Linked DNA regions of Homo sapiens: region 1 is linked to region 2. The links come from fine-mapping of genetic effects on gene expression. A gene starts in region 2. The other region holds a variant in brackets. All regions are shown on one strand. Distances are from middle to middle.

Region 1 (5,378 bases), 42 kb before region 2:
AAGTGGTCAAGAGGATCACATCTAATCAGTATAATGTATCAATCTTGATTGCTAAGATAAATGAGAGCACACTTAAGTGTTGACATACTTCTTCAGGAAGAAGGTAGCTACAGATGTATGGCACTTGACTACAGAAGCCATATATTTGGTTACTTTGAAAGCCCAAGACTGCAGAGGACAGAGCGTGCTCCAACTCATACAGGTACTTATGAATGATTTCATCTTTCAGCCTTCCTCTTTCATCAGCAAAGGTTGTGGAAACTATTAGATTTGGAAAAAGAAGAGAAATCACTTGTACCATAAATTAATTTTGTTTTTTTAAAATTATGAACAATTATGAAAAGCAAAATAAAATTTAAATGCTCAACTAATATTGCGGAAGCTAGTAGGTGATAAAAATGATTTAAAAACACTTGTCTCCCTAGAAATACTTGAGTATTAAATGACTGATAGTGGGTAAAATATTTCTGTAATGCCTTGATTAATTTTTAATCAATTAACTTAGAGACATATTAAAAGAAACCCATGGTAGTATAGAGATTCTTATAAAAACATAAAAGTACTTGGAGGTTGTCGGCTCTCTTCTGCTCTATAATTATATATTTGCAAAACTGCTAACCTGATATATTTGTCATTAAAACAAGGAAAGAGTATCTATTTTCTCATACCTTTTTATCCAGAAAACTGTCTTTATAATTTTGTCAGTGAAGGGAACTACACTGTAATCTATCTGAATTTAACCTTGTCTATTCAAAGCTACAAAACAAGAGACATCACAAAAATAACAAATCAATTTGATGTGTCCGTTGATCCTATCTCTTTTCCTATGGTAATAAAGCAGACTCATGAGTCAGGAAGCCCAGAGGAAAAGTCCACACTTCAAACTGTTTAGCATGTTGGTTTTACTTTGTAAAGATAGACAAAAGGTGGCCATTTTACCTCTTCACATGCCAAGATAAAAACAAAACAAACCCAAAAAACAATAACAACAATGTATCTGGGCTCAGGAGCAGAACTGGCTGCTTATGTTTTCCTTACCTTGTGGCAGTAATGTAGGCAGTGTGAACATCTCCAACCTGCTTCTCCCTGCTTCTGGAAGCGAGGAAAGCACCATCACTTCCACTATGTCTGTTTCTAAAAGAGACACTGTGGATATCTGTAAAATGTCTTTGGCCACCTCTGAAAGCAAACAGAGATCAACACCACAAGTGGTCATTGATAAGTTTAAATGATCTTTTACCTTTCCAATTAAGATATCATCCATGGACTTGCCTTCACTATATCTTTAGAATCAAATTATTTGCTGGACATTTAAAGTGACCTTTAAACATAAGTTACAGGGACATTTTTGATGAATGGATGAGGGATTCTCCTGATTAGATGTCTAGACTGGCAGATTTAAACCAGCCCAGTCTGTCTGGGTTTCCTTCCCAGCCAGGGTGGCCCCAGAGTGCACCATCTCCACCCCCTATCCCTCCAAACCAGCATCTGCATGAGCTGGTCCCCACAAGTCCACTCCAGCCAGGTTACCTAATCCTAAGATTGGGTAAACTTAGGCATCGGCCTTCTTTGCATCTGTGGTCAAGGACTGTGGGTGTGGTGGAAACGTGACTTTATGAGCTTGCTCCACTAGAAAGCCAGCTGATCTAACCTCTACAAGGTGTGCCAGGCCTGGAGCCCACCTTGGATTTGTTCCAGATTCACTCTCCCATTCTTCATGGGACTGTGCTGCAGGTGCCCACTTTCTCAGGCCCTTCCCCAGGCGGTCAGCAGATGACCTTCCCTCTTCCTTAACAAGGAAGACCAAGGACATCTACATAAACTCAATCTCAACTTTCTTATCCTGAGACTCACACTTTCCCCTTGTCTGTTTCCATTTTCTCCATTCATTTCCTGACATTGATGTAGGAACAAAATGTAACCCCTCCCTGTCTGTGATTTTTGAGCCCATTCCTCCAATCTCCTATTAGACCATACATTATCAATCACCTCTTTTTAGCTTCTTGTGTCCCTTATGGTTCCTTTTATTCAGCCCTCATGACTCCCCTGTCTTCAAATAAGAACCTTCCTCCAACTCTGCTGTCCCACAACAGTTAACATCTGACTCTCTTTTCTCCACTGCAAACTTCCTAAAATAGTTTTGGCACTTTCTGACTTAATTTTCTTACCTCTATTCCCTCCCTAACCTTCTTCATTCCAAAGAAGTAGCTCTCTCAGGGATCACCTGCTGACTGGCAAATATATGAGAGCCTATCTCAGCCCTCTCCCTACCCACACTTCTGTGTCAGCCTGTACTTTCATCTGCCTTCCTTCTTTAGGCTGTTTCTGGAGAGAATGACTCCCAGTTCTCTTATTACTCTGGCCCAGCCTCAGTTTTCTTCACTGCCTCATCTTCCTCTGTCCACAGCTTCAATATAAAATGTGGACCAGGGTTCTATTCCCAGCTTCTTCCATCCCACCCTCTGGCCAAACAGATACATTAAAAATGGGGCAGGGAACAGTGGCTCATGTCTGTAATCCCAATACTTTGGGAGGCTGAGGTGGGAGGATTGCTTGACTCCAGGAGATCAAGACCAGCCTGAGCAACATAGAGAGACATTTTCTCTACTAAAAAACAAAACAAAACAAAACAAACAAACAAACAAACAAAAAAAGGCCAGGCGTGGTGGCTCACGCCTGTAATCCCAGCACTTTGGGAG[G/T]CCAAGGCGGGCGGATCATGAGGTCAGGAGATCGAGACCATCCTGGCTAACATGGTGAAACCCCGTTTCTACTAACAAATACAAAAAATTAGCCTGGCGCGGTGGCGGGCGCCTGTAGGCCCAGCTACTCAGGAGGCAGAGCTTGCAGTGAGCCAAGATCACGCCACTGCACTCCAGCCTGGGCGACAGAGCGAGACTCCATCTCAAAAAAAAAAAAAAAAAAAAAAAAGGAAACAAAAACAAAACAGAGAACAAGCCAGGCTTTGGGGCATAAACCTGTAGTCCCAGCTACTCAGGAGGCTGAAGCAGCAGTATTGCCTGAGCCTAGGAATTCAAGGCTATAGTGAGCTATGATTGCACCACTGCACTCCAGCCTGGGTGACAGAGCAAGACTCTGGAAAATAAAATAAAATAAATGAAATGGAATATTTAGGCAGGATATACATCCACTCTGAGGTCAGCCACAGGCTGTACCACACTCAGTGCCATCTAATTTGCATATTTAGTTACCTCTTTTGCCTTATTAAGCATCCAGGTTTACTTCCACTCTGTTGAGCCATCTCATCAGCTACCATGATTTCAAGATCAGAATTCTATCATTAAGCCTTGAACTACATATCCCGATTTCCAAACTTAAGCTAAATATGCCCAAATGAAGAGTTTATTGGCTTTAAACCTATGGAACTCATCAGCTCAACCTATTCCTCAACCTCTAGAACTTTCAACTAATGGCATTGCAAACTTCCACCATTCAGGCTAGAAATTTTGGAGTCATCACTTATCCCTTCCTTTCGCATCAAATACCAAGTCCTACCAATTCCATCACTCGTGGTTGTGCCCTCTTTTCTCTTTCTGTAACTGCAGCATGAGTTTGTGCATTGTGGATAAGAGCACACGCCCTGAAACTGGACTTCCTTAACTGGGCTCTGCCACTAACTAGATGCATGGCCTTGAACAAGTACTTAGCCTCGCTTCGCCTCAATTGCCTCATGTGGAGAGATAATAGTAGTATCAATTTCATGAAAGTTGTCTAAGAATTCAATGGGTGGAGACATGCTGAGGGCTTAGAATACTGGCTACCACATAGTCAGGCATTCCTCAATAAGTGTTGGCTGTTGCTATGATTATGACTATGATCATCTCTTGCCTTGGCTAGTATTATAGCTTCCAATCTCATCTTTTTAATTTCATTCTTTTGCCTTTCTACTCCATCCTTCACACTGGTATCAGAGTCAGTCTCTAAAAACGAAGTCAAATCATGCCAGCTCCATCTTGAAACCACTGATGATGGCTCATTAACCACAGAACAATTCCAGACTCTTTGGAATGATATTCAAGGTCCTTCCTCTTTCAGACTTCATTGCCATAGTCATCTTCTAGTAAACTCTTCCATTTACCTGTTATACCAGACTTTTTTACCATTCCAAGTACCTTTGTTTGGGTTATTATTTTGAGCAGGAATACTAATATGTCCTATCCCACACCTATGAAAATCCTTCAAACCCACTACTTTAAGCCCTTGGAAAACTCCTCCAATCCTCCGCACCCCCTGACCAGTGCCCACCTTCACCTCCACTCCTCTCCTCACACTTGGCAGAATGAATTGCTGCTGTATCTGAGCCTACACAGTATCTGAGCCTACACACCATTCTGCATTTTCCTCCTCTACTAAATTGTCTCCTTAATATTTTCATCCCCCTACAAGGCCTAGGTTTGGCATTTTGCACCTTGTAGGCACTCACTAATTTTTATAAGTCAATGATAAACAAATTTAAAAACTTAGGAGTGGGACTTGGCAAAGTGTGAGGAGCAAAAAAAAAATTTTTTTTAAGGAGAATTTTAAAAAAAATTGTGTGTGTGGGGGGGGGGAAACACATATACAGTTGGCATGTAAAGCCAGAGAGAAAATAAAGAGAAAATTCTTCATTAGAGATAAAATATTAAAAAATATTTTCAAGAGAAATCAACCCAACTTCTCTGTATGTTAATATTAGAAATGTTCAGCCATTTCATTAATGTATTTAATAATTGATTCAAGAAAATTTATTTAGCACCAACTATGTACCAAGCAGATAACTCTAATATTCCAAATACATCAAAATATAATGTGAGAATTCTCCTAAGTAACTTTAGTTATTTAAAGGTTTCTCTTTCAGAAAATATGCCACAAATAATTGTTTCAATATTCAATATGAAAAGTCCATTTTCATAACCTTAAATTCTTTGAAATAATCAATATTTTAAATTAATCAGCATTCTATGTTGTACCTGTGAATCCAATAATCTGAAATGAGCTTGAGGAGTTGGCATTGATAATAAAGACTTTTCCTTCTGCTGTTCCAACTAACAGAAATATTCCTTGCTGATCATAACTAGAAAAGAAGAAATCTGATGATCAAATCCCAATTGTTTCACCAGCTAGATGGTGAACAAGTTTATTGAATGGCCACAGAGATATGTTCAAAGCCAGTCATTTTTACGGTTTGCAATTTTTAATATTCTCTGACCTTATTAAAGTGGAGTGATTACATGTGGATATAATCATTGTACTTTAGGCCAATGATATTTCCAAATTGCAACTTTAATAAATACAGTCAAGAAGATTCAGTAAAGATGGGCAGTTGGTTCATCATAAGTGAATGAAACATGTCTGTCGGTAGAGCTTTCTTGATGTTTCAA
Region 2 (5,378 bases):
CCTCAAGCATGAGCTTTCTGCCCATGGGGTGTTAAATGAAGGAATCATTAGCTGGTGGCTCCAGCAGACGTGCAGCAGCTCAGTGTGGGTCAGCTGTATCTAAGAAAGAGTCATTAGGCCGGGCACAGTGGCTCACGCCTGTAATCCCAGCACTTTGGGAGGCGGAGGTGGGTGGATCACTTGAGGCCAGGAGTTCGAGACCAGCCTGGCCAACATGGTAAAACCCCATCCTCTGCCAAAAACATAAAAAAAAAAAAAAAAAAGCCGAGCATGGTGGCGCACACCTGTAATCCCAGCTACCTGGGAGGCCAAGGCAGGAGAATCACTTGAACCCAGGAGGTGGAGGCTGCAGTGAGCCAAGATCATGCCACTGCACTCCAGCCTGGGTGATAGAGCCAGACTCTGTTAAAATAAAATAAATAAAATAAACACTAATAATTCAAATGGTAGGCAACATTGAGCACTTGGCATACATACACATACAGCATATTATATATTTTCATCTATCATCATCACCGCAGCCTTCACATTAGACACCATCTTTATCCCTATTTCATGAATGAGGAAATTGAGGCTCAGAGACTTGACTTTAGAAGCTATACAAACATCAATTCACCTGGATTTTCAACAAATATTAGGAAAGAAAAAAAAGTCATTGCTCTGAAAAAGGCAATAGTCTTCTAGCCCAGTGCTTCTCAAAGTTTAATGTGCATATGAATCACCTGGGAATTTTGTTAAAATGCAGATTCTGATTGAGTAGCTCTGATGTGGGAGCCAAGTTTCTGCATTTATAACAAGCTTCCCAGGTAGCACCAATGTTGCTGGTAAACAGACCACACTTTGAACAGCAAGGCTCTAGCTAACATAATTTAAATCCTCAGTGATCAGCTTGATTCCTTCTTTAAAAATGTATATTAAAAAAAAAAATGGGGCCAGGCGTGGTGGCTCATGCCTGTAATCTCAGCACTTTGGGAGGGTGAGGCAGGCGGATCACTAGGTCAGGAGTTGGAGAACAGCCTGACCAACATGGTGAAACCCCATCTCTACTAAAAATACAAAAATTAGCTGGGCGTGGTGGTGCGCACCTGTAATCCCAGCTACTCAGGAGGCTGAGGCAGGAGAATCACTTGAACCTGGGAGGCAGAGATTGCAGTGAGCCAAGATCGCACCACTGCACTCCAGCCTAGGCAACAGGGCAAAACTCCATCTCAAAACAAACACAAAAAACAAACAAAAAAAACCTTTCAAAAAATAAATCTTCACTTATAATAGATTTAGTCAACTCTTTAAACAAAATCCTTCAATTATGGGCAGAGGAAGGGTTCTCTAGAATACCTTTCAATTTGGTCCTTCTGGTCAATCCTGGAAAGCTGTATACGTAGATGAGAGGTTTTAGCTTCCGGTCAGAAAAAGCCACAACTTCACAGGGGATGTTAGTTGCCATGACGCCCACAATTCCATTACTACACTGCAGTACAGTCTTTTTCTTGGTTTCAATATTAATAAATATTACATAATTCCCACAAGGGTAGCAAATGGTGTTGTCGTTGACAAAATGAACATTCTGCTTAGGGAATCCTTGCACCCATCTTTGGGAAAAGATATGTCAACATCAATATAATACATTTCAAATACTTTTTTTTTTTTAACAAAGCAAAGGGTCATCAAAATCTTTGAAACATTTCTATTTTCATGTCCTTTCTGCCCCCAATTTCTAAGATAAAAGAACACACATGCTGGCTGTGAGATCCATTTGAGTCAATGAATTATAGAAATTTAAATGTAGACCTAAAGTTCCGTAGGTCTCCCAGGCCTTCTTCAGATAACTTTTTCAGCAAAGGAAACTCTCTGACCAAACCTGAGAAAGTCTCAGAAGGACTTCTGGGGTCTTCTATACTTGGAAGACAAAAAGTGAAAATAACAGAGAAAAGAGCTTGATCTCAACACAGTGGCATCCTGGGCCATTCTTTTATAATTAGTTTGATTTTTTTAAATAAACTTTAAAAAACAACTTTGCATAGGACAGCCTGCTTTGTGGTTGTTAGCAGAGTAGGAAAATTGCTTATTTACACAGATGAAGAGTATGTGGCCATATTTTAGATTTAAAAATACAGATAAACGTAGAAAATAAAAGGAATGAAGTCGACGTGAATGAAAGGCTAGCACACAAAAAGAACATACTCTCAAGTAAGGAGTGCGTGCTAGGTGTATGCTAGAAAGGAGAGGAGATGAAGGAGATTCTATTTTTATTTAAATATTAAAGGTATGCTTGAAGATGGTGGAAAAGGCAAGTGAAGGACACTGGTTTGGTGAGAAACCTCGAGACATTAGAGTGTCCAGGACTAGCAGGGGATGCTGTATAGAGTGGAGGTGGGGGCTGGGAGGAACACTCTAGAATGTAGGGGAAAAAATGCCACCTATATCTGCGCAGTGCTTGATGCTTTTCAAAGGCTACTATAAATGCAAATAAATCCAAAGCTAGTGGATAGGAGTTAGAAGGAAAGGATTCAGGGACCTAACTTTGGGGAAAATCACCAAAGGTAGCAAGGACGGGATCCGGGCTGTCGCCAGGTGGAGGGGGAGGGGGATGTGATCAGAAGACCCGGATCACTAGCGGGAATCCTGAGCTAGAAGGAAGAGATGAAGGGTGCAGGGGACGTTGCTGGGTAAGAGACGGAGGGTCAGGGTCGCAGAATAAGGAGTGGGAAAGACAACTGGGGACGGGGTCAAGGAACAAGGGGATGGGGAGCGGACAGGGGAGGTCACACGGGGAGGGAGGCTGAGGGAAGGCACTGGGGGCAGAGGGGAAGAGGTCGAAGCTGCGGGGAAAGCCGCCCTAAGGAACCGGAGGGAGAGGAGGGAGGAGGGGACTTGGGGCAGGAGGTTCCGCGAGACCCAGATCGGTCGCGGGGCCGTGAACACCGCACCTCACGGACAAGGACGCGCCGCCGGCGGAGTGGGGGCCTTCGTCGCGCTCCCGGCCTTGCGCCATGGGCAGTGTTTTCCTCAGGCGGGAGCAGGCAGCGCACGCAGCACCCCAGGGCGGGTCGGTTACCTTTCCGCCGCCGCGGGGCTGCGGGCCGCGACGCCGCTGCTGTGTACACCCGTATCCCGGAGACCGTAAGCCCCGCGCCCATTGGCTCTGCGCTTTGGCCCGCTCCCTTCTGAGCCGAGCAGATTGGTGGAAGGTCTGCCGCTCTCGGCCAATGGGTGAGCGGCAAGCCAAGCGAGGGGCGGGCCCCTTGCTGTTCAAAGTGTGGTCTGTTTACCAGCAACATTGGTGCTACCTGGGAAGCTTGTTATAAATGCAGAAACTTGGCTCCCACACCAGATCTACTCAATCAGAATCTGCATTTTAACAAATTTCCCCAGGTCCGGGCCAATAATTGCAAGTAAGACTCATGCCTACAATCTCCGCGCTTTCGAAGGTCAGAGCGGGAGGATCGCTTGAGGCTAGGAGTTGAAGACCAGCCTGGAAGACATAGCGAAACCTGCCGCGCCCGTGCCGCATCTCTACAAAAAAATTTAAAAAGCAGCCGGGCATGGTGGTGCACGCCTGTAGTCCCAGCTACTTGGGAGACTGAAGTGGGAGGATCGCTTGAGCCCAGGAGTTCAAGGCTGCGGTGAGCTGGGATGACGCCACAGCACTCCAGCCTGGGCGACAGAGCGAGACCTGTCTCTAAATAAATAATTATTTTTAAAAATCAATAAATTTCTAAACAGACTTTCATTTAGAGTGCTGACTGTGCCAAACATTGTTGCAACGTCTTCACATCTCCCATCAGCCCCATTTTACAGATAAGTAACGTGAGGAAAAGAGAAGCACATAATTTGTCCATGGCTACAAAGTTGAGTGGGACTTTATTTATTTATATTATTTATTTATTTATTTTTGAGATAGGGTCTCACTCCGTTGCCCAGGCTGGAGGGCAGTGGCTTGATCTTGGCTCACTGCAACCTCCATCTCCTGGGTTCAAGCGATTCTCCTGCCTCAGCCTCCCAAGTAGCTGAGATTACAGGCACGTGCTACCATGCCCAGCTAATTTTTTGTATTTTTAGTAGAGACGGGTTTTCACCATGATGACCAGGCTGGTTTCAAATTCTTGACCTCAAGTGATTCGCCCGCCTTGGCCTCCCAGAGTGCTGCGATTACAGGCGTGAGCCACCTTGCCCAGCCCTGAGTGGGACTTAAACGCAGGTCTAGCTAATTTAGAGCTCCAAGCCCTTAAGTACCATATAACACTTTGAAATGTACCCTCTTGCTTCCTCAGGGAAGCAGACAGCTCTGGAAGTAACCTGATTGAATGGTCGGCAGCTTGTCATTCCTTCTTCTCTCCCATACCTTCCCTTAGACTCCCTCCCTTACCCTTCTTCCTTTCCCTTCAGTCGTCTTCCCTTCTCTACCCTTCCCTTCCTTTCTTTAGGTCTTTCCTTCCTGTCTTGCTTTCTTCTCTCCATTTCTTTCACAAATATTTACAGAGCATCCCGCATGCATTCATGCATGTGCTAGTCACTTGGAAAAAATAGAAAAACAAATAAAGTTTCTTCCTTCTTGGAACTTAGAGACTGGTGGGATCCAGGGAGTTGGGCTAGATATCCACATGGTCTCAGATGGTCTGTGTAAGTTGTGAAAGGATTTATGAAAGTGATTTTATGCAAGAAATGTTGTACAATTCACGGATTGTTAGGCCTCCTAAATGCTTCATACAATGCCCTATGACTCTTACTGTACAACTTGCCTGCTTAAGTAAGGGTGAGCCCTGTGGACATGTGGAGTTAGCTATGCCCTCTAGCTATGCTAGAGAGTCAGCTGTTATCTGCACTTCTGCCTGTTGTGTCCTAGGCTAGGCTCCACACCTAGTACACAATTAAAATCTCTTACTTACCAAGGTTTTCACCAAAAATAAAAGTTGCAAAAAGTTAACATTATAACATGTAATTAAAACTACTAAAGAAACAGTTTTACATGCAAGGTGTGTAAAGAAAGTAAAATGTGTTTTTGGTGAAAGATTATAAGAAGTAATGGGAATGTGGATTTTTCTCTGCCTACATTTAAGTGTTAAAGGATTGCTTTAAGTAAAAAAAAAAACTAAAGGTTTAAATAAGTTGTGGAAGGTTTATAAAAATTAATTGTAAGAGATTCTGTATGTGAACATACTGGCTAAAGTTACAGGGGTATTATTCAGTTTTTCGATAAATTAAACATTGGAATAAAAGCACAACAGGTTTTTCTTAGAGTTGATCTGCTCTTTCACACACACACACACACACACACAATTGTAAAGGGTTATACGAGGTTTATAAGACTCTTACCTTATGGTTAACATTAAAATTGGGTAAATATGTCTATAAGGTTTTATTAAAAATTGGGTTTAACA

What was found. PIP is the estimated chance that this variant, and not a neighbour inherited with it, causes the effect.
Region 1: its variant is fine-mapped to the expression of CFAP43 in thyroid (GTEx, PIP 0.93).

The regions. Positions count from the first base shown.
Region 1 is chr10:104,187,232-104,192,609 of GRCh38, forward strand. It overlaps CFAP43 (cilia and flagella associated protein 43), which reads right to left. Exons shown (of 38, transcript NM_025145.7): 12 at 4,968-5,071; 13 at 1,039-1,179; 14 at 89-261. Among named protein-coding and RNA genes, the nearest start is that of MIR609, 29 kb to the right of the region's middle. The variant G/T (reference allele first, on the strand shown) is at 2,700.
Region 2 is chr10:104,229,255-104,234,632 of GRCh38, forward strand. CFAP43 (cilia and flagella associated protein 43) reads right to left here and starts at 3,110. Exons shown (of 38, transcript NM_025145.7): 1 at 2,928-3,110; 2 at 1,336-1,589. The coding sequence starts at 2,992. RefSeq lists an enhancer at 2,937-3,231.